Homo sapiens: one gene and its partner. The protein of the gene in region 1 interacts with the protein of each later gene in a biochemical or structural test. Each region holds a gene or a part of one and is shown on either strand. Other genes may lie near its edges.

What was found.
Region 2: the proteins of AKAP1 (region 1) and CFAP91 form a complex in vitro, tested with the Homo sapiens proteins (one study listed by BioGRID and IntAct).

What each region holds. Positions count from the first base shown.
Region 1 is NC_000017.11:57,086,412-57,096,987, reverse strand, and holds part of AKAP1 (A-kinase anchor protein 1, mitochondrial precursor), read right to left. Parts: exon of another isoform or gene 10,451-10,576; intron 1,500-10,450; exon of another isoform or gene 1,029-1,499; intron 398-1,028; exon of another isoform or gene 225-397; intron 1-224.
Region 2 is NC_000003.12:119,739,357-119,749,932, reverse strand, and holds part of CFAP91 (cilia- and flagella-associated protein 91), read right to left. Parts: intron 9,385-10,576; coding exon 9,238-9,384; intron 5,959-9,237; coding exon 5,737-5,958; intron 2,819-5,736; coding exon 2,670-2,818; intron 2,123-2,669; coding exon 2,031-2,122; intron 1-2,030. UniProt on the Homo sapiens protein: Involved in sperm flagellum axonemal organization and function. May regulate cilium motility through its role in the assembly of the axonemal radial spokes.

The DNA of each region.
Region 1 (10,576 bases):
AGAGTGACTGCTATCCAATACTGGCAGCCACTTAGTCATGGGAGGTTACTGAGCACTTGAAATGTGACCAGTGTGACTAGGGCACTGAATTCTACTTTAGGTTAACTTGAACTCTCCACCTGCAGCTGGCAGCTACCTACTGGACAATGCAGCTCTAAAGGGTGTTCCCAGAAGGCCCCAATGAACAGGAGGGCTGGATACATGCTGCAGCCGCCAACACCTACCTTGCTGGGTAGTGCTCGGTTCTGCCACCAAGGGTGGGGGCGATGGTAGGCCTGGGCTGTGCACCCTCAGCAGCATGGCTGGGCCAGGAATCAGAGTGCTGGAGCCATGGCTCAGGTGTTGGTCCCAGCCCAGCCTCAGTGCTCACAGGACTGTTACCTTCATCCTCAGGGGCCTGTGTAAGTCACAGTAAGCTATGACTTCATGTGGGTACCCTAGAGATCCCAAATTAGCTCACAGTGGGGTTGTGAGGTCCTGTCTAGGACTGTCCCCCACCCTCCATTGTGATGGCCCACAGAGAAGCCAGGGGGGCCAGCACCACCAGACCAGCACACTTTGTGGGTGCTTCTGCCCTTCCACGTAGAGCAGCTGTCAGGAACTCGGGACACTTTCCCAGCCCAATTCACAGAAGGAAGGCCAGAAGCTTAACCCAGTAGTGTCTGAGTACCTGCTTGGCAAAGCCTTCTACGGCCAAAATGAAAACCCTGAATCCACTACCAGGTGCTCTAGGTAAGACAAGACAAGCCAAAAGCCAGAAATACCATCTCTGGACATGGCCTCAAAGTAAGAGCTCCGCCAGCCCAACTAAAAGTTAAACCAACTCCTGCTCTGGAAAACTTAGTACCCGAGGTTGAACTGCCCAGTCTCTTTCCTGCTCTGCTGGCCAAATCCATGGCAGGTCCAAGTCACATGCCTCTTTTCGTGAAGGAAAAATCATCAGCACCTCCTACAAAGGTCTTCCTAATCACTTCATTTTGGGGGTAGGGGTGTGGATTTTAAAACTTTGAAGACTATGTCACACTCACCTTGCCCCTCACCTCTGGCCTTGACAACCATCTTGCTTTACAAGTGAATTCCGCCAGGTTTCTAAAGATGGTCACAACACAGGTGCCAGGAATGCCTTCCTGGGTACATGGAGTTCCCGCCCACGACCACAGAAGACATTACACAAAACTGCCCAAAAAGTATGAAATGGCAATCTGACAACAACCTGACTTAAAAGCCAGTAAAGACATCAGAAAAGATGTTGGTGTGCAGCAAGAAACCCTTCGCAGCACCTCACATGGGCAAAACCAAAGAGGTAAGACCCTGATCTTCCTAATGGCAGACAGTGAACTACGACCACCCCAGAAATCACATAAAAGCATAGAAGGTAATTTCTATTCAACAAATAATTACTGGCACTCACAGAGAAAAGCATGGTGGGACACAAATTAATCAGGCAAGGCACTGCCCTCGAGGCACTTTCAGTCTTGGCGGGGAGTAGTGGAGGGCAGAAGAAAAAAAAAAAAAAAAAAAAAGCCCAAACAGGCCACCACGGTAGCTCACGCCTACAATCCCCAACACTTCGGGAGGATTGCTTGAGGCCAGGAGCTCAAGACCAGCCTGGGCAATATAGTGAGACCTTGTATCTACAAAAAAAAAATTTTTTTTTAATTACCCAGGCATAGTGGCGCACACCTGTAGTCCCAACTACTCGAGAGGCTGAGGTGGGAGAATTGCTTGAACCCAGGAGGCAGAGGTTGCAGTGAGCCGAGATCGCACCACTGCACTCCAACCTGGGCAACAGAGTGACACCTTGTCTCAAAAAACAAGCAATGACCTTTTCTCCAGTGGGCCTGTTACTGCCACTCTCTGCTACTGACCAACTGAAAGTTTTGTCCATAGGACATGGAAGTGCCCTGTTAGGGGTGAAGGAGGAACAGAAAATGGGGTGCCAGTGTCCTCAGACTAGAATGTTCTAGTATCTTGGGGTAGGAATGAGAGAATATAAGCCTGAATGCCAGCATTATGGGAGCCAAGGAGAGTTGGGATGCCCCATTCAATATATAGACTTTCATTCAAGACCCATCTTCAGCCAGGCACGATGGCTCACACCTGTAATCCCAACACTTTGGGAAGTTGGAAGATTACTTGAGCCCAGGAGTTCGAGACTAGCCTGGGCAATGTGGTGAGACCTCATCTCTACAAAAAAAAATTTAAAAGAATTAGTCGGGCATAGTAGTACATGCCTCTTGTCCCAGCTACTGAGCAGGCTGAGGTGGGAGGATCACTTGAGCCCAGGAAATCAAGGCTGCAGTGAGCTATGATGGCATTACTGCACTCCAGCCTGGGGGACAGTGAGACCTGTCTTTAAAAAAAAAAAAAAAAAAAAAAAGTTGGGGGGGACCCATTTTCACCACTCCCTGGTACCCAAATCCAGATCGCCACATTTATAACTTCTCTAAAAAGTGAAGCCAGACCTTCTGCTGGCCTGGCCTGGCGGAAGGGCTCCACAGGCCTAGTTGTCTGCTGACTTCAGCCACCCAACTGAAGGCCCAATCCATGCCTTCAAAGGTGCCTGTCCCTGCATGGATCGGCTGGCTTCTTGTGGGCCACAAACCACGCACACCTTCTCAGCAAGCTACTGAACGATGGGCTCCCCCAAGACAAGGAAATCAACCAAGAAAGGAGGGGCACTGGATCCAGAAACGAGACAAGAGAAGGGGAGAGGGAATTCCAAGGCTGAAGGGGAAGCAGAGCCAGGGAAAAGGGATGCGCCCAGGAGAAACGTGGAACCGTTGCGAGTACCTGGTATGTGGAGCCACAGTGAGAGCCACTTTCCCCCAATGACAGGCATTCCACAGCAATGGTGGAGGCTGCGAGGTGGTCAGGGAACTGGTGAGAGAGACAGAAAATTAAGCAAAAGAAACTAAGGAAATTAACTAGGAGAGGAGAAGAAGAAAATGAAGGAAAAGAAGAAATATGGGAAACTAAAAACCTTGCAGCCATAAACAAGGTTCATATTATAATAATGTATATTCTGAAGATCAACTTGACCAAAACTTGGGCTATCTCTACACTGGGATGATGAGGGAAGAAAAAAGCATAGGAACGAGCTAAATCCTATCTCCCACAGCAGAAAAACAAATCAGATAATAATCCTTAAAAAGAAAGAAAATAATACTACTGACAATGGTGGGGACAGCTGGAAGAATTGAAAGTAATGGGGGTGGGGGGCAGTGGGCAAAGGACTGTCCTTTCAAGCCTTGTACACAGTCAAAAGCCAAATCCTTTCTACAAGTAATGTTTTGATAGAAAACACGTTATTAAGATACATACAAGTAGCAATGCATGCTCTATTACCACACAGCTTTATGTTTCTTATTAACCATCCTAAATTTGCATTAATGTCAACTCATCTGTGTACAAACTTGTAAGGCCTTATTTTCCTATAATAATTGATGCCAATTTTGCTTCAGAGACCCCCAGCTGCCCAGCTGACATAATAGTAATATCAAAAAGAGAGCATGCTTATTGACAGGTTAGATCCCTCTGGAAGCAAGGCATTGAGGGCTAGCCAGCATCAGATGGCTGGACCTCTCAGGGCCAGTCATTTAACAAAGAGTTTAACACGCACTGTGAGCCAAGTTCGCTGGGCACATAAGGCAAAGAGATCCCTCAGGAAGCAAAGGTGGAAGGAAGGGTAGAGAGTCAAATTACAGGTAAGATACTGCAAAGATTCCGCGACTTAAATATAAAGACCTGCAGCCTCTCTCAACTGATTGAGAGAACTGAGCCCTAAGGCTGCCCTTGCATGTGATGAATTACCTATATCCCTGTGCGTGTAGCAGGGCACCAGCTGGGAGAGTTGAGGAACGGTCACCTAGTCCTTTTCTGTGTGCTGTGGTTGAAATGAGAAAGGCTGGATGGAGCACTTGGAAGGGGAAGCTGCAGACAGAATGAGGCGGGAATGCCTCTTGGAAGAGGTGGCATCAGAACTGGAACACTTGAGAACTGTGCCAAGATCTGGGGGGAAGCAGGAGGAGAGCGGGGAGAAAGTTCCAGGCAGGAAGAACATGTGCCAAAGTCCTAAGGCAGGAACAGGCTTGGCTGACTCAAGAGGTAGCAAGAGGGGAGGTGAAGATGAGGCAGAGCATGGCTCTCAGAAAAAGGGCTCTCCAACATCACTGCGCGGAAGGCCAGTCGGACTCGCAAGAACCCCAAGGGACACGGTCCACCAAACTTTCTCCAGAGGGGAAAGCGATGTGCCTGAAGAGCCAAGGGGCTTTAGTTCTTAATTAATAAGCAGAAGCTGCTTCCAGACTTGATTCCTGAAACAGGATGCCTCTGTGGCTGGTAGCATGACAGGTACACTGTGTAGGTAAACAGGGGCTTGCTTTTACCTTTAAGTTCTCAGCGAATACACTTGCCAGGAAGCCCTGTGGCCACACCACACATTAGCCTTACAGAGCCACCACTAAGGGTAAGGGATAATAAGCCCCCCTTACTCTCAGGCTCCCTCAAAGGAACCTGTTCCAATAAGGCAGTCCAGCCCCAGGAGGCGGACACACACAGCCTACGTAAGCCCTTGCCACTTCTTTGAATCAGACTTTGCAAAAAACAACCTTGCTCTCCAGCCAACATAAACCATAGGCAACAGAGGGCCTTATAAGGCTTGAAGCTTTCTTAATCAGAAACAGTTAGATGGGCTGGAGTTAGCAGCTCCAAGTTAGAGGGAAGGAGGAACTGAAAAGGAGAGAAGAAAGGGTGGCCTAGGGAACCAGCAAGCTTGCTGGTCAAACTGCTTTTTCATCCCTCTTCAGCTTCTGTGTCATCACAGTAAAGAATTCTCACCGGGGGTCTATGGCCATGCCTCCTTTCATGTTTGCATTTTGGTTTAAGCCAGAGGAATCAGACTGCCCACCAATCCACACTATTAGAGAGTTTTTAAGTGTCCATTTAGTGGCCAGCCTTTAGGCTGGGCAACTTCACACAAAAATGAAGTTATGGGGCCAGGCACGGTGGCTCACACCTGTAATCTCAGCACTTTGGGAGACCAACATGGAATGATCACTTGAGCCTAGGAGTCTTGAAATGGGTCTGGGCAAGGTGATGAGACCCCATCACTACAAAAAAAATTTTTTTAACTAGCCAGGCATCATGATGTGCACCTATAGTCCCGGGTACTTGGGAGGCTGAGGCAGGAGGATCCCTTGAACCCAGGAATTCAAGGCAGCAGTGAGCTATGATCGAGCCACTGTACTCTAGCCTGGGTGACAAAGCAAGACCTCATCTCTAAATAAATAAATAAATAAATAAATAATGTTTTTAATGGGGTTATGTGGTTTCCTGAAAAATTGCCTGCTGGGGCAACAAGGGGTCCTCACTCCCCAGGCAGCAGTCTGACACCTAGCTCCCCAGCTCCCCAGCTCCCCGGGCTGCCTCAGTCACATGCCTGCCTGCACCAGGAGGCAGGCTGGGCCCCTGCCACAGATCCAGAATAGAAAAGGCAGCCCTGGAGACCTCTTAAGCAGCCACCCCCTCCACACACCCCTTGGCAGCTTCCAGGGTGGCTTTATTCTCCTCTCTCTCCTGACGAGGCGGTGGCAGCAGAGACAGCAGCAGCTTTGGCACCAGGACCTGTCCCGTACACTGCAGCCACATGCACTTGGCCCTCCTAAAGGATGCCACCTGCTAAAAATAGCACCAGCACATGCTTGGCCAGGTGAGCCACACCAAAGCCAAAGGACAAAGCAGGGAGGTTATTTGCAGCACGGCCTTTTCTCCCAGAGACAGCTAAAGGCACAGCTGAGTGTGGGTCTCCCTCCAAGGCAGTTCAGGAAAGTGAGAATCACTCCTGCTCCTTTTTCTTGGGAGTGGCAGAAAGGAGGGGCAAGAAGGAGTGTACAGAAGACTGAACTGTCCTTCAGATCTGTCATCGACCCAACCTCACAAAGGCACATCCAGGCCCAGGCCAGAGAAGGGATGGGGGCTGGGGCTGTGCTTGAAAAGATCTTACTGCCTCCTCTAATCAGGAGGCCAGCTACTGCTGGGTGACAGCCTTTGGAGGGCCAGGAGATGGTCTGTGACCTCCAAGTGAGGTCTGACAGGTGTCGGGAAATTAGTGACTTCAGGATTGTCTTTTTCAATCAGCTCAGTCTTCAGAGCAGTTTCCCTGAGCCCTCAGGCACAGCTTTTTTTATTCATAGTCATTACTTGTGCATTTCAAAAGCACCCGATGGTTGCATAATTCTGATGATAAAATATGGCTTTGGAAAGACAAGAGAGTTAAGAGTAGGATCCTGTACTTCAGTTTCCCATAAAATGAAGATGTTCTGTAATAGGGAATATCTCCCTCACAGAGTTGTAACGAGGCTGAACACACTTAAGTCAGACTCCATATGTGGGATCAATGATTTTAATCTTTGTAAAACCCAGTTTAGTTTCCTGAATGAGGATGTGGTGATAAAGGGGCAGTAAATAAGCAACAACCAATGAGCATGGGGGGCGGCAGGGGCAGAGGAGGAGGTGGGGAGCACGCCCCAGCCCAGGTCCAAGCCAGTCCAGCCCTTGCTGTGTCCAGGGACCAGTTTACTCTACTCGGATCTTGTTTCTTCACCCACAAACTAATCACTGTACTAACCTCATAGGGCTGACAGAGAATAAAAATGACACAGAAAAAAAAAAGCCACTAATATGCCAGTAGGTGCTCATCAGTAAGTGTCCTTTATGCTGCCTGGCTCCAAGAAAAGAGATCTCACATTATATATACCAAAGGTCAATCTAGCAGGGTTCAAACAAAGCACACCCAGGACTAGAAGAGGGGGCATCTGGAAACAAAGAACTCCCCACCCCTGCCACAACAGAACACGTTAGCATCCACGCTGTGGCCCCACTCTCCCCCAACACCTTCTGTGAAGAATGGCCCCTAACATTTAGGTGGACTGGAAACAGCAGAATGAAAACACAACCTCGTTTAAGAGAAGGGCCGCACTGAGATCTGTAGGAAGTCATCAGGTGGGTGAAGGACCAAGTAACAATATGTTGACATCTGACATTTGGAGACCAAGGACAAACCAGCAGGGATCTTTATGATAATAAACGGCTTCAAACCAAAAGGGCTTTCTAAGGGCTTAGCATCTGGACCTTTGCTTCACGCTCCTGTCCCCAGGTCCTTTCTGAAGGTCCTCACTCAAACTGTTTCAAAACTGTTCGTCCACTCCCAACTGGCAGACTAGAACTCACTTGTAGTATGCCATGGAGACAACCAGTAGATAATTTGTCACCAAAGCTGTTGGGTTTATGGACTCTGGAAGACTAAGCTCAAACATGTTATGCTTTAGAGATTTACAAGTTGAGACAATTAAGCTTTTAGAGTTGGAGAAAAAAAAACTTTCTAGGCCGGCGCTGTCCAACAAAACTTTCTTCGATTATGGAAAATGTTCTTGACCTGTACTGACCAGGACGGCAGCCACTAGCTACACGAGGCCACTGAGAACCTGAAATGTGGCTAATGTCACTAAGAAATTTTTTTAAAAATACTTTGAAAAGTTTAATTAGTCACACAGCTAGCAGCTACCCTACAGACAAGGCAGCTCTAAACTCCCCACACCCAGGACAAATTTAGGCAAATAAAGCTATCTTTAAAAATAAAAAATATTTAGAACAGTAGCACACCTTAGAGCTAAGAACTTGAGATGAACAGTGAGTTGTTTTTTTTCCCCTTAAGTCTTTGACATGTACTACCCATTGAGCTGTGCTCCCCAGCCCAAACACATCACTCCAGTGGCCCCTGGGCACGTTTGGTCTAACTCCAAGGCTCCCAGGACCATAATCTGAATACTGATAATTTTGACCAAACCTCTTTTAGCCACTGAATAAACCAAGATCTGGAAGGCCAACCAGCCTGCCTAGAATCACCGCCAGGTTTCAGCTCTGAGAGCTGCAGCAAGTCCCAGGCTCTTGTCAGCTAAGCCCAGCAGTGAAACAAGCCTCATCAGCCCTAGGTTATACATATTTTTACTTCCAGGACTCACCTCAGGGCCCTTCTTTGCTCCCAAGTGCAACTGGGCCTTAGTGACACCTGGCTCGGTGAACACAACCAGCCACCATTACAGAACAGGGAACACAATGTTTACCACTGACTGCTGCAAACTATCAAACCAAGCCGGAAAAACAACCAGATGGTGAAGACCCGGACAGAATGTGGACAAGGCTGCACCATTTAGTAAAATGAAAAAGTTAAGGCAAAGGACACCTTGAAAGCTATTTATTGCTGGAAAGCTAGTTCTCAGAATGCTGAATGATAACACACACAATGTTAACAATCTACTTAGAAAGCAGCAGAAAGATTAGGAGAAAAGCCCAGGGATTTAAGAATATTCCTTGGTTCTTCTCACAAAAGCCATCCAGAGGACCTAGTTTTAACTCCACACCCACGCTTCCTAGTTCCTCTACCCCTCAATTTGAATTTGTGTGACAGCCACTGAAACAATCCAGAATGACCTCCAGCTTCACCCTCACTGTTCTCAGAGGTGTGAGGATTAAAGGATTAGTGTGCTCATAACTCACCTAGCACAGTAACTATCAAGAAAGAGGCATCCTCTCAAGTTTAGCTCCCAGCTCCCCCACTACCTGTTTCTCCAGCCAGACTCTGTCCTACTTCAAACATGCTCACTGATGATGTTTTCCACAGCCCAAGCTTCAAATTAGGTACCAAGGCCAGGAGGTTCCTTCAGTGGGATGCCACATGTGATGGGAACTTAATGTTAAATGATCATAAAAGTGAAAACTGCCTGAGGTATTACACCAGGAAGGAACATGGAAGAAACAGAACTTGCCCTAAGAAGCAAGATTTAGGACTAAAATACACCCCCCACCATAAAGATGAGCAACTCTCAAACAGTATATGAGATGATTTCAATGGGACAAGATGCCCACAGGATCTACTACCTCCCCATAGTGGAAGAAAACGCCTGAGAATGACAAGCTGAAGGTATTAACTCATACCTGAAACAACTGACTTCCCCACAATAGGAAAACAGACCAAGCTACAGAAAGGCCCAATCATTCAGACTCACAGGGAAGATTAGGAAGGAGTGACCTAGGGGAACTCTACGGCCAGCTCTCTGGGTACATTGGCTACAAGCTGCCTGCTCTTCAAAGCCCTGAAATGCACACACAATCAAGTCATGTTGCAGGCTGGGAGCAGGAGGCTAGCCAGCAAAGCTTAGGGAAACCAATTCGTTTTTCCTCCCAAACAAGCTTCTGGGTCAGAGGCTAAGGAGAGGGGTGCTTTTAATAGAATTCAAGTCACTCAAGTAATTCAAGAGAAACAAAGTCAGTCTCAGGGATTGTTCAGGGAGGAGAGGGGAAGAGCAATGCTTAAGCACCTATCACAGTCCCCAGTATCACAAATATGATCTCCATTTGTCTTTAGGACAGGAAAAGGGAATACTGTAGAGGCTAACACCAGCCTTCCCCTAAAATATGGCTGCAACCCAGCCTATGTCCAAAGCTCAAGAATAATTTGGGTTACCAGGCAGCAAGATAAATTGCTTTTAAATATTGATGTTCAGCAACCTTACACTGGAGACATATCGACTTCAGCACCTGAGCAGGCCACTTACAACAGACACCTCCACTGTCACCCTGCAGTGGCCAAGTGAGAATGCATTTCCTAGAAACAACTGGGAGATGGGAGAGATATTCCTACAAGGAACTAGACCTAGACACAAATCCATTAGACCTGTCTCACTCATTGGCTAGGATCTGTTACCTGCAAGTTCTGAGCCATCATCTGACAACATGCATGAAGACAGAGCCTATTAATCCAGTAATGGACTCAAGCTTTAGTGATTTGCATGCCTGTAGGATCCAGAGGACCTCCTCTAACCTAGGGCCATATTTCAAAGAGAATACACCCAAGAATTATGCAGAACCTACAAAACTAGTTAGAGGTTAAAGAAAAGTTCAACACAAGTCAAAAGGTTCCCAAAACATAACTTCACTTGCTTCCAGTGCTCAGGGTCTTAAATAATCAGCAGGTGAACCACTTCAATGCCAAGATCAGAGGAATTATATAAATGATCAAGTCAGGCAGCCTTCTTCATTTCAAAGATGTTCTGTACCTTTAAGAGCAAAGTGGATGGGTGGTGCTAAGAGTCCAAGCTTTGCTTTCTAAATAAAGAGTTAAAAAAAAAAAAGGTACTAATTTGGGAAGGACTTAGCAGTTACAAGAGCTTGTAAGGCTACTAGTTGCCAGAATTAATAGCTTTTTGTGAACGGTGTTCCTTGATCAGTAACTAACAGATACTGTTGCACCAGGTCCAGCAGCCTAGATTTCACTGGAGACAAATCTAAACACGAAGTAACGCGCACTACAGTAGGGGAAAGATACCCAGGTTAACCTCACTAATTGCCCTGCGCATACACCCTACCCAGCTTGAGAGGCCTCGACTCGCACCTGGAGCGAAGTCCACCGGGTTTGTGTTAACGGCGGCAGGAAGGCGCCGCCACCCAGGACATCCCCCAGGAGAGGAAGATCCCGAAACGCCCAGGGCTCCCATGCCGTTCCGAGTCGCCACAGCAC
Region 2 (10,576 bases), on another chromosome or scaffold:
ATGTTCAGTGAACTTCTTGGAACTTAGCATGCATTTAAAATTTGGCAGTTACTATTACTTTATATCTATATACAGGTATCTTTAAGGTCTTTCTGATCCATTGGCTTTTCAAAAAGTGATATACCTCAAAATCGTCTGTATATATTATCATCTTAATTTTGGGTAAAGAGTGTATATATAATACATATGGTTCTCATTTGAACAGAGAGAAAAAGGTCCTAGTGTGCTCCCTGTTCATATGGCTTTTTTGATTTGGCAAAAATATAAAGGGAAGAGGCTAAGGACTCATTCAACTTGCCCATAGATAAGTTCCACTGGATTCCGTTAGCTCAAGTCTTCCTCCAAATCCTCAACTCAGACTCCCAACATGGGAGAGGGGATCACAAACTAGTAAATTTTCTTTTTTTTTTTAGACAGGGTCTCATTCTGTGTTCAGGCTGGAATGCAGTGGCACAATCTCGGCTCACTGCAGCCTCCACCTCCTGCACTCAAGTGATCCTCCCACTTCAGTCTCCTGAGTAGTTGGGACTACAGGTGCATACCACCACACCTAGCTAATTTTAAAATATTTTTTGTAGTAACTGGGTCTCCCTGTGTTACCCAGGCTGGTCTCAACTCCTGGATTCAAGTGATCTTCCCGCCCCAGACTCCCAAAGTGCTGGGATTACAGACTTCAGCCACTGCACCTGGCCACAAACTAGTAAATATTAAACCCAGTTTTCCTCCTCTCTTTCAATCCTAGGGTGGAATTCAACCAAGGGTGTAATGGCTTTGAAGCAGGCTGGCCTCACTTTGAACTCAGGAGAAGTGGAACAGAGTTGCATATTTTCTTAAGGTCCTAGAAAACATAAGGTCCTTTTATAACATAATGTGACACAGAAATATATTACTTGATCTGAAAATTAATTTTTTGTATAAGCACTATCATACACTATTGATGCAAGTCAACAATCATTTTGTGGGGCAATTTGGTAATATCAAATTGGTAGAACAATCTTTTTGTAAGGAAATTTGGTACTATCTATCAAAATGTAAAATACATATACCTTATATCCCAGCAATTGCACTGTTAAGAATGTACTCTCAGAAGCATGGTCAGGATATGTGTAAAATATATTGATTGAAGCACTGTTAGTAACAGGAAAACAAACTGGAAACAAACTAAATGCTTATCCTTAGGGGGTACTGGTTTAAAAATTACACTACAACCATGCAATGGAAAAATCAGGTATTTCTTTGTCCTCTCCAAATGTGTTAGAACTCCACCATTTCTTTATCCCTGATTGAGCAAATTGAAATGTTAAGCATTTTTCTGCTTAAGCCCATCTGGAATTCCCCGGTATAATTTTCAATACTTCTGAGCTGCTATTTCACTTAAATACTGGTCTTCTCCTGGTTGCACCCCTCTGTCTAGGATCAAGCCTGCCATCAGCAGCCTCAGAGCTATGGAAGAATCTTATTTTTCTGTTTAAGATAGTATTTTCTCTTTCTCTATTGACTAAAAGCATCAATCTTTAAAAACATGCCACCGGTGACAAATGATAAATTAGGATATTTATACTTGGATGGAGTTCCAGCAGAAATAAGCTATTTGGGGTACAGGCAGAGCAGCAGGGTAGACTTAGACCTTTCTAGCACCCTTCCTTTTTAACATTCACGGTTCACGTGTCCTGCCTCTGAAAGGCTGCTACAATGTGAAAATCTTTTATATGCTCAATATCTGTTTTATGCTTTTTAAAAAAATAAATAAAAAAATACAGCTCTTCTGAAAACTTGGGAACATCCTTTTAAACAAGGTTTGGATTTTGATACTGTCACTCTTATTAGAACTACAACCCATCTGTACTAGAGTTGATTATATTCTAGAATCAGGCAGCATGAAGAGAACCTGACAAGCTCTGAAATAAGAAAACTCAGTGATCCTCCTTTAGAAATTTCCTCATCCCTCTGTTTAATTTTAAATCTCTGGGATATTGAAAATAATTTACATCTTTAAAAAATCCTAAAGTAAAGCATTTACATTGGCTTACCTTTTTCTTTGACAAAGTATTTTTGCACCTCTGGGATCAGAAAACTATAAACCAACTCAGCAACAATCTCCTCTGACTGAAGATAGGTTCGGCTAAAAAATATAAAACAAATTGAATTATTTCTTTGGTTTTTTCACTTGAGCTGCTGATTTATGCTTTCCTGCTGTGTAAGCAACTCCATTCAAACCCCACCATCACCTTTTCCTTGATTAAGTGATCTGAAATATCACATTCCTGGCAAGTTTGTTTAACTCCACAAAAAAATTTGGATTTGACCCTGTCCTTCAGTTACCCTGCCTGCCAGGAAGGGAATGTTGGAAACACAGCTTATACATAGAAGCCAGCAACCTTGGGATGAAGTCCCAGTAATGTTGCACACACGTATTCACATTGTTTTCATGCTTCCGAGTATTCTTAAAGTAAGTAATGAGAGTAATCCAGATTGCAGAGGATAACTGAGAATACATACGGAGGCATACACATATTGGCTTCTCAAGAGTTAATGTTAATAAAACAATGGACGCTGAAGTATGAGTTATTTGTTTCTACTTGGTGGTGAAATTGTAAGCTCTTGAAAAAATATATATGAGTACCAGCAAATGGGCTGTCCATTCTACAATCTGTTCTCTTGATACACACCGGCTTTCCATTTCATAAGCAATGTCATTGATTTTCTCAGCCATCTTCTCTATTTCTGCCCTGGCTTGTTCTTCTGCAGTATTCGCTTCGGTATTCAGTATTATGTCTTCTAGGTAGGAGCTTATAGTACTATGGTGAACTTTAACCACCTGCAAAAAACAATAATACCCTCACTAAAACAGGTATGCTGTTGTAAACAACACAAGAAAAATACACAAACATTGGTTAACTTTTTCTAGCTCATATATTTCATTTAATAAGTCAACAGTCCCTTCACTAATCATTCATTTTCTTTAGCATCTCATCAGTCTGTTTCTCATCCACCTACCTACTCACTCTGGGCAGCCCACACCCATTTAGCCCATTTCAGAATTATGGATCTTATTGGGCAGGCAGGCAAGACAGCACTGCTGAAGGATTATGGGCTTCAGAGTCAATAACGCTGGTTCAAATCCTGGCTTTGTTCTTACCAGCAACGTGACTTGGTCAAACTATCTAACTGTAGCACAGACTAGGAGGTATTCTGCAGTGTCCTTTCTCTCCTTCCTCTTACATAATAGAACCCCTGGATTTTAGCTAGGGAAACAGGTGCCTAGAATAAAGACTACATTTCCCAGCACCCACAGGAGCTGGATTGCCCATATGACCACGTTCTGACCAAAGAAAGGATTCTTAAAGGGAAAGACCTGGCTTCCTTTTTTCTCTCTTCATTTCTCCTTTCATGAGGACATAATGCTGGAATACCAGCAATCATCTTAAATTGCCAGAAGGCCTACGACCTAGGAGCAGAAGAGCAGAAAGCTAGAAGGATCCTGGGTCTCTAATGAATTTATTGAACTATCATACCAGCCCTTGACTGCTTCTTTTTAAAGTTTACTTGAAATCATGAAATAGGATACAGATTTTAAAAGTGCATTGCAAGCAAACTCAGAGATTAGAAAAATAAAACAAAATAAAAAGTACAGAGCACATAAATGTACAGTGTAATGAATTAGGGTAAAGTCAGAAGCCATGTATTATAGTAACTGCCAGTATCTCAGAAGGCCACCATGGTTTCTTCCTTTACCACAGCACCTTCCCACTTTCATAGTAAACACTTTCTTTTCTCTATAATTTTGCTACCTAGGTATGTAACCATAAACAAAGTAGTTTAGTTTTGCCCGCTTTACAGGTGTATGTATATAGAAAGATTAAGCATCAACTGTGGCATACTTAGTTTTGCCTGTATATGTATGCTGTCTCCTCAACAGATTATCAGCTTTTTAGAGGTAGGGCATTTTTCTGTTTCATGTCTAAATATAGCTTTGTATCTGAGATAATGCCTGGGACTCAGTAACAATTCAGTACCTGTTTGTGGATTGGCACTTTGGCACAATTCTGAGTATATGATACTGTACACCTATGTGTAAAACATCAACCTTCAATCCCTATGCCTTCTCTATGGGAGAGTCTCAATGGCCAGTTTAATACAGTATCAACCAAACAACTAACCAACCAAAATATATCTGCTGAATGCCTATTAGTTACAGGGATCTACACTGTGTTGTGCAAGGCACAAAGGGAATATACAATATTCATGCTCTCATAGAGCCCACCCTCTTATTCAGGAAGCAAGTTGGATCTATATGGATCAATTAGCTCAGTCACGTAATAGTAGAGAGGTGGAAAGTTTACTATGGTCCATCCATAGCTGTATATGTACCTGTGTGTTTATGTATATCTTTATAAATGTGTAAATTTCTGGAGACGTTTGTGCGTGTATGTATGTGAATAAGGAAAAGTGTGGCTATGTGTGTTCCTCTATGTCTTGCTAATGTTGTGCACACCAGATTATATTTGTAAATATGTCCTCATGTATGTGCCTGCAAAATTTATATGTATTTAAAGATGAGTCGATGACTTTATATCTGTGTTTCTCACTATCTAGATGCATATTTTGGAAATTTATTAAATATTACATTTCTGGTTTATAATTTATGTGCAAGCATATTTCTCTTCAAGAGAATCTGAATGGAGGCTGGGGAAGTAGGATGGAAAATAGTCACTATATTTTAATTAGGAAGGTTGAGAATTAACATATGGATGATATTTGAATCTGTGGGTCCATAGCTGAGTACATTTTTTACCTAAGTGGTTCTTAAATCAGGCTAGAAAGGCTATATTAACCCTTTCTTGCCCTTGCTAGACAGAGCTGATGTTTTCTGACATCATTCCCATTTAGAAGGTATCTTCCTAAGAAGCTTTTTTACCAGCTTTTTCCTTTCTCTGCTTTTGTGTATAGTAGCTCCTCTGTTCCATTTCTTCTTATTCTCATCCCCAGCTGGTTCTTCCTTAGTGATATTAGGTAAAGGATGGCAAGTTCTGATTTGCCAATAATTTCTAAATCTCAGTCACTGTTTTTGAAGAAAAGTGTGTTGAGATTAGTAGGAGGCTAGAAGCTGGTCACCAACTTCCAAATTTACATCTTCGGCCAAACCCTCATTTCTAAATTCCATCTTGTAGATCCATCTACTGAAACAATACCTCTGCTTAGATGTCCCAAACGAAATATAAACTGATTTCCTGATTCCTCCCCTGCCCCTAAGCTTATTCCTCTCTCAACTTTCCTACCTCACGAAATAATACCATCATCTTCCAGCTGCTTAAGCCCGAAACTGGATGTAATACTCGACTTCCTGTCTCTCACTCTGGCCTTCACTACTTCAACAGCTCCTTCCTGGCCGCCTTGTTCCCCCTCTGTCCTCCCTCCAGCCTGTGCTCCACACAGCAAGTGAAGTAACTGGCTTAAAATGTGTCTCTGGGCCCTATTTGTTTCCTTCATGGAACTCATTACAGTTTCTAATTCTATACACGTGCGTATTATGTGTTATTTAAGCTTTAGGAGAGACGGGATCGTGTCTGGGTTTTTTCCTCCAAAGTTTCCCACAGTGCCTCTGTAGAGTGCCTGGCATACAGTAGGAACTCAATGCATAAACAAAAGCCAAATGCCATTTTATGTCATGAGCTTCCTTTGGTTTGACTTGGCTCCTTCTAGGCAGCTTCCACACACCCAGCTGCCCCTACTTGCCTCCTTAAATATCTCGTCCTCCTCCCGCAGGCGCTGTTTTTCCACCTGGCGCCGACCACTCTCTTCAGCCTCTCGTACCCGCCGCTGGCGCTCAGCCAGCATGACAAAGGCATGGATCCTCCTCTCCTCCTGCAGTCTCACCAGCTCTTTGGACAGGAAGTCAAACATGTCTGCTAGTGCCCTTCCTTCCAGTCCGGCCAAATGGTTTTCAACCAGTGACACCTTGAAAAGAATAACATAACTTTAAGGACACAAATTCCATTATGAGTGGTGATTATTAGAAGAAGTGCTGGATTACTCAAAACTCTTGGCAGTCAATTCACTTTCAGAATGCATTTAATTTTTACTGGGAATATTACCTCTCAATTGGCTCCAACCCAAGTTCTTATGAGGAAAACTGAGGCACGAGAAAGTCGATTGTCTGGTCAGTCACTGATGGACCACAGCCCTCAAATAAGCAAGAGGATTTAGCAAGACGTTTCTGTTAGTGACCATGGAGAATGGGTTTTTTTTCTTTCAATTTTATCAACAAGGTAAAGTGTGTCTTCTCAGATATGAAGGGAAATGTCAAGTTTTTTATTAAAGATAATATTGGAGTTTAATCAAATTGAATCTCCTAGAAATTCACTCATGATATCAGTTAATTTTTCAATATCTTTCCTTTCACACAAGTTAGGAGTTAAGATCTTGAATAACGTGAAAGTAGAAAACCTTGGTACTTTTTACTTTTTTAATAACTTTGAAGTCATTAACAACAATATTCGAAATAGCACAGGAATGGCTGGGCATGGTGGCTCAGGCCTGTAATCCCAGCACTTTGGGAGGCTGAGGCGGGTGGATCACCTGAGGTCAGGAGTTCGAGACCAGCCTGGCCAATATGGAGAAACCCCGTCTTTACTAAAAATACAAAAATTAGCCAGTCGTGGTGGTGCGTGCCTGTAATCCCAGCTACTCGGGAGCCTGAGGCAGGAGAATTGCCTGCGCCCAGGAGGCAGAGGGCGCCACTGCACTCCAGCCTGGGTGACAGAGTGAGACTCCATCTCAGAAAAAAAAAAAAAAAAAGCACAGGAAACAGACCAAATGTCCATCTAATCACTGAGGCAAAATTAGGGACCCATTGTGCTCTCTGCCAGAAGTCAGCTACAGTGCCTATTTATGAATCCCTGTGTCCTGGCTTTGACATATGGAGAAGAAAAGTGTTTAAGATGACTTTGCAACTTCATCCCCTTTCCTCTCCTATCCTTGCTTGTAAGGGAAAAGGGTTCATCTTCCAGTCACATGCCACCTTCTCAGTGACAGTTCTCCCTCTATGCTCAGCTTCCTTCCTGGTTTCTGTATGAAAGGAGGGAATACTCAGTTCTCAGAGGCCATGGGGCTATGGGTAAAAGCATCAGTCAAGTGTGGTTGTTGGCCCCAACACCACCCATCTTCATCCTCACCTGCCTCCTAGCCCACACACACTTTCTAACCACAAAGTTCAACTTTACTTATATAATAGGGAGAGATGGAAAAAAAGGGCAAAGCTAAGAGCATCTCACTACTCCTTCCATTCATAAACAGTAGATACTCAGCCCAGAGATCACAAATAGATTCTCTCCTTGTCTCCAGGGAGCATAAGCTCCCTCACTCAGGGTCAGGTGCAACCTTGAAAATCCTGAGGTGGCTAGAAATCCTGTTCATGTTTAGCCTCTTCTCTCAGCAAGAAATCTGGGTAGGCACAGGCAGTACCATCTAATTTGAAATTAAGGGAAATGTTTAGGGAGGGGACTCCACTGTAGTCACAGAAAGTACTGTGTTACGTAATTGGGGGTTGTGCATTTTCTGGACTGTTTTCCACAGAAATATAAGAGAAGGGGGAAGGGGGCAGACCAGCATTGCTGCATCTATACATGAGGTGCTCACTCCCTCAGATCCCTGCATATATCCAGGGTGTATCCAAGTACAGCTGAAGGTAAGCAGAGTGAGTCCTTGGCTAAGTGACAGCTTTGCCCATTAACTCCTCCCTTAGCTGTAGGCGGACACGATTTCACTCACATGTATATCCACTAAATGGAATAAATGAGCTGAAAAGCCTGGGTTAGCTTAGCTATACCCACTAAAGTCATGATCAGAAACTGAAAGGGCCAAGGAGGGCATTTTTTCATCCACAGTCTCAGGGCCTAGCGCTTCCAGGGCATTCTGCTCCTTATCTGAGCTTTTCCAGGACTCTAGGACTTCTAGATTCAGGGACTCCAGTGTTGACATTCTCCTCTTCCTTCTCTGGTTCCTCTGTTGGATCTCACAGCCTGTGGCTTGCTTCCTCCCCATTCTGCCTCACCCCCCAAAAGTTCCCCAAGCTCAGCAAACATCCATGGTGCTGCTGTCATGTGAAAGAAACAAAGTTGTGGTCATTTCCAGGCTGCTTACCATTTGTGCCCGACTCCCACATAACACAAGAGTTATGTATGTTGCTAAAGGGGGGGTCATATTAACTTTAAGTATTACTTCCCTATAACACTAAATTCTGTGCAAATTGATTCTTTTTCAGATTGACTTACAGAAAAGTGGGAGAGGGAGTAAAATAAAGCATAGCTATACTATGTCAATAACATTTAAAAGTGTGTATACATATATAGACAAACATTGGAAGAAAATAGGAAAAATATTTACAGTTGTTGGTTTGGAGCTGTAATTCTTAGCTGTGTCAGGCGGCACACAGCTGGGAGGTCATGACGAAAGTCACCACATATCATGAAACAGTAACACATTTAATATGCAGTTTAACCAGCATGAGCTATGACAGCTCTAAAACTCCAAAATAAATGCTAATATTTTAAGATAAATCTTATTTCTCACTTTTTTCATGTTGCTTTTGTTATTTATTCAGTCTACAAAGCCCTCACTAACTGAAATACAATAGTCACTGGATATTTGGGGAAAAAAATGGAAGGAAAAAAATCTTAAAGTTGAAAAGAATGCATTCTTCTTGTTTTGTTGTTATTGTTTTGCAAATAAAGAAAAAATAGCACCATATTCAAATCAGTAAGGGCACATCCCCAATCAAATTAAGGACTACAGCAGCATTATTTAAGAATTCCAGAACTTTGGGAAGCTGAGGCAGGCGGATCACCTGAGGTCAGGAGTTCGAGACCAGCCTGGCCAATATGGCGAAACCCCATCTCTACTAAGAATACGGAAATTAGCCAAGCATGGTGGTGCATGCCTGTAGTCCCAGCTTGGGAGACTGAAGCAGGAGAATCATTTGAACCCGTGAGGCAGAGGTTGCAGTGAGCCACGACTGCATCACTGCACTTCAGCCTGGGCGATAGAGTGAAACTCCATCACACACACACACACACACACACACACACACACACACACAAATGCTGACAGAGTGATGGGATTGTGGGGCTGTTTCTTTTTCATCATTTCATTAATTTTTATTATAATGGTGCTGTGTGATGATAAAATCAAGGGAGAAAATTTAACAAGAAAGTAACAAGAAAACAAAAAAAGGAAAACCTTGTGCTCATGCAAGTTCCTCTGCCGCTGTAAGGCCAGGGTCACTTGCTTCTCGGCTTTTTTCACCAGCTTTTCATCTTCTTGTAGTGCGTGGCAGGTGCGCAACTCCTGGATCAACTCCAGTCGCTTTTCTTTCCCTTCAAACATCTGTATCAAATCAAATCAAAGACAGACCTGCAAGTTACCATCCCTTTGTGCCAAGCACTAGGAGTCACACGCAGTGACTTGTGAGACACTTGTGAACAGTGGGTTCTGTCCTGCCTTTTGGGTTCCACAGAGCAGATGTGTCCCACAGAGCTAGAGCTCAGCCCTCTTTTCTGTGCCTTCAGCTTCTCAGGCAGAAAATGGGCTTAGTTTTCAGTGAGCTGTGCTTAATTTCTGAGAATGCCTCTCAAGGACAAGATGACAACTCCAGGGTCATCTGAAGAAACCAGAACCTTCCCCTCATTTCCTGTGCTCCTTCCCTAATAAACCTGAGGATGGCATTTTTCATGGCCATATGTTTTTTTCCAATAAATCTGTCCCTGGTTTGTAATAATCTGTTGTCTGAATTTAACTGTGGCATTTCTCTTGGGAAAATACTGAAAGAAGAGTAAAGAACAGTGCTAAACACAAGTTGTTCATCCAGATGATTTACTCATCATATCTGAATCTCTTATGAGTTATAGCTATCTGGGAAAAAAAATTAACTGGGGCTTTATATCAGTCCATTTTTTAAGTGAAGTGTGCCTGCTCCAGCAACACAAATAATCTGGCTAAGGCTTTACACTCGGGAAGACCAGAGCTGAATTTGCTGGCAGATAACTAAATCTCCCTCAGACTCAGATTACTTGCCTGTAAAATGAGATTATGGATAGGAAAAAAAAATGAGACAACATATGTAGAGCAAAGAATAAATAGTGTGGGCATATAGTAAAGGTTCAAAACCATAATTTATTATTTAGCTCTTTCATTTATAATGTAGGGATTGCCAGACATATGCAAACTCAAATAATTGTATTATGACTGTGGAAAATTAGGGAATCCACCTGGTTGATAATGCTTAAATAGCCAAAATTCAGGTGAGAAAATGTATGGATTTAACAATTCCAAGGAAGAAGTGAGTTTCATACTGCCTTAGTTACAACCATGGCAAATAGCAGGTAGGTCCTCCCTGTCTCTCTCCTTGACACTGTGCCACCCACCTGGACAAATGATGCCATTAGAAGGAAATGGGTCACCAGAAGGAAATGGGTAGGCAACTCAAGAGTTTAGCTGAATAGGATAGCAGGGTGCAAAAGGGATTCACTCCAAGGAACCAAGCACATATGCATTCTAAAAAATTTATTCTCAAAAGAGA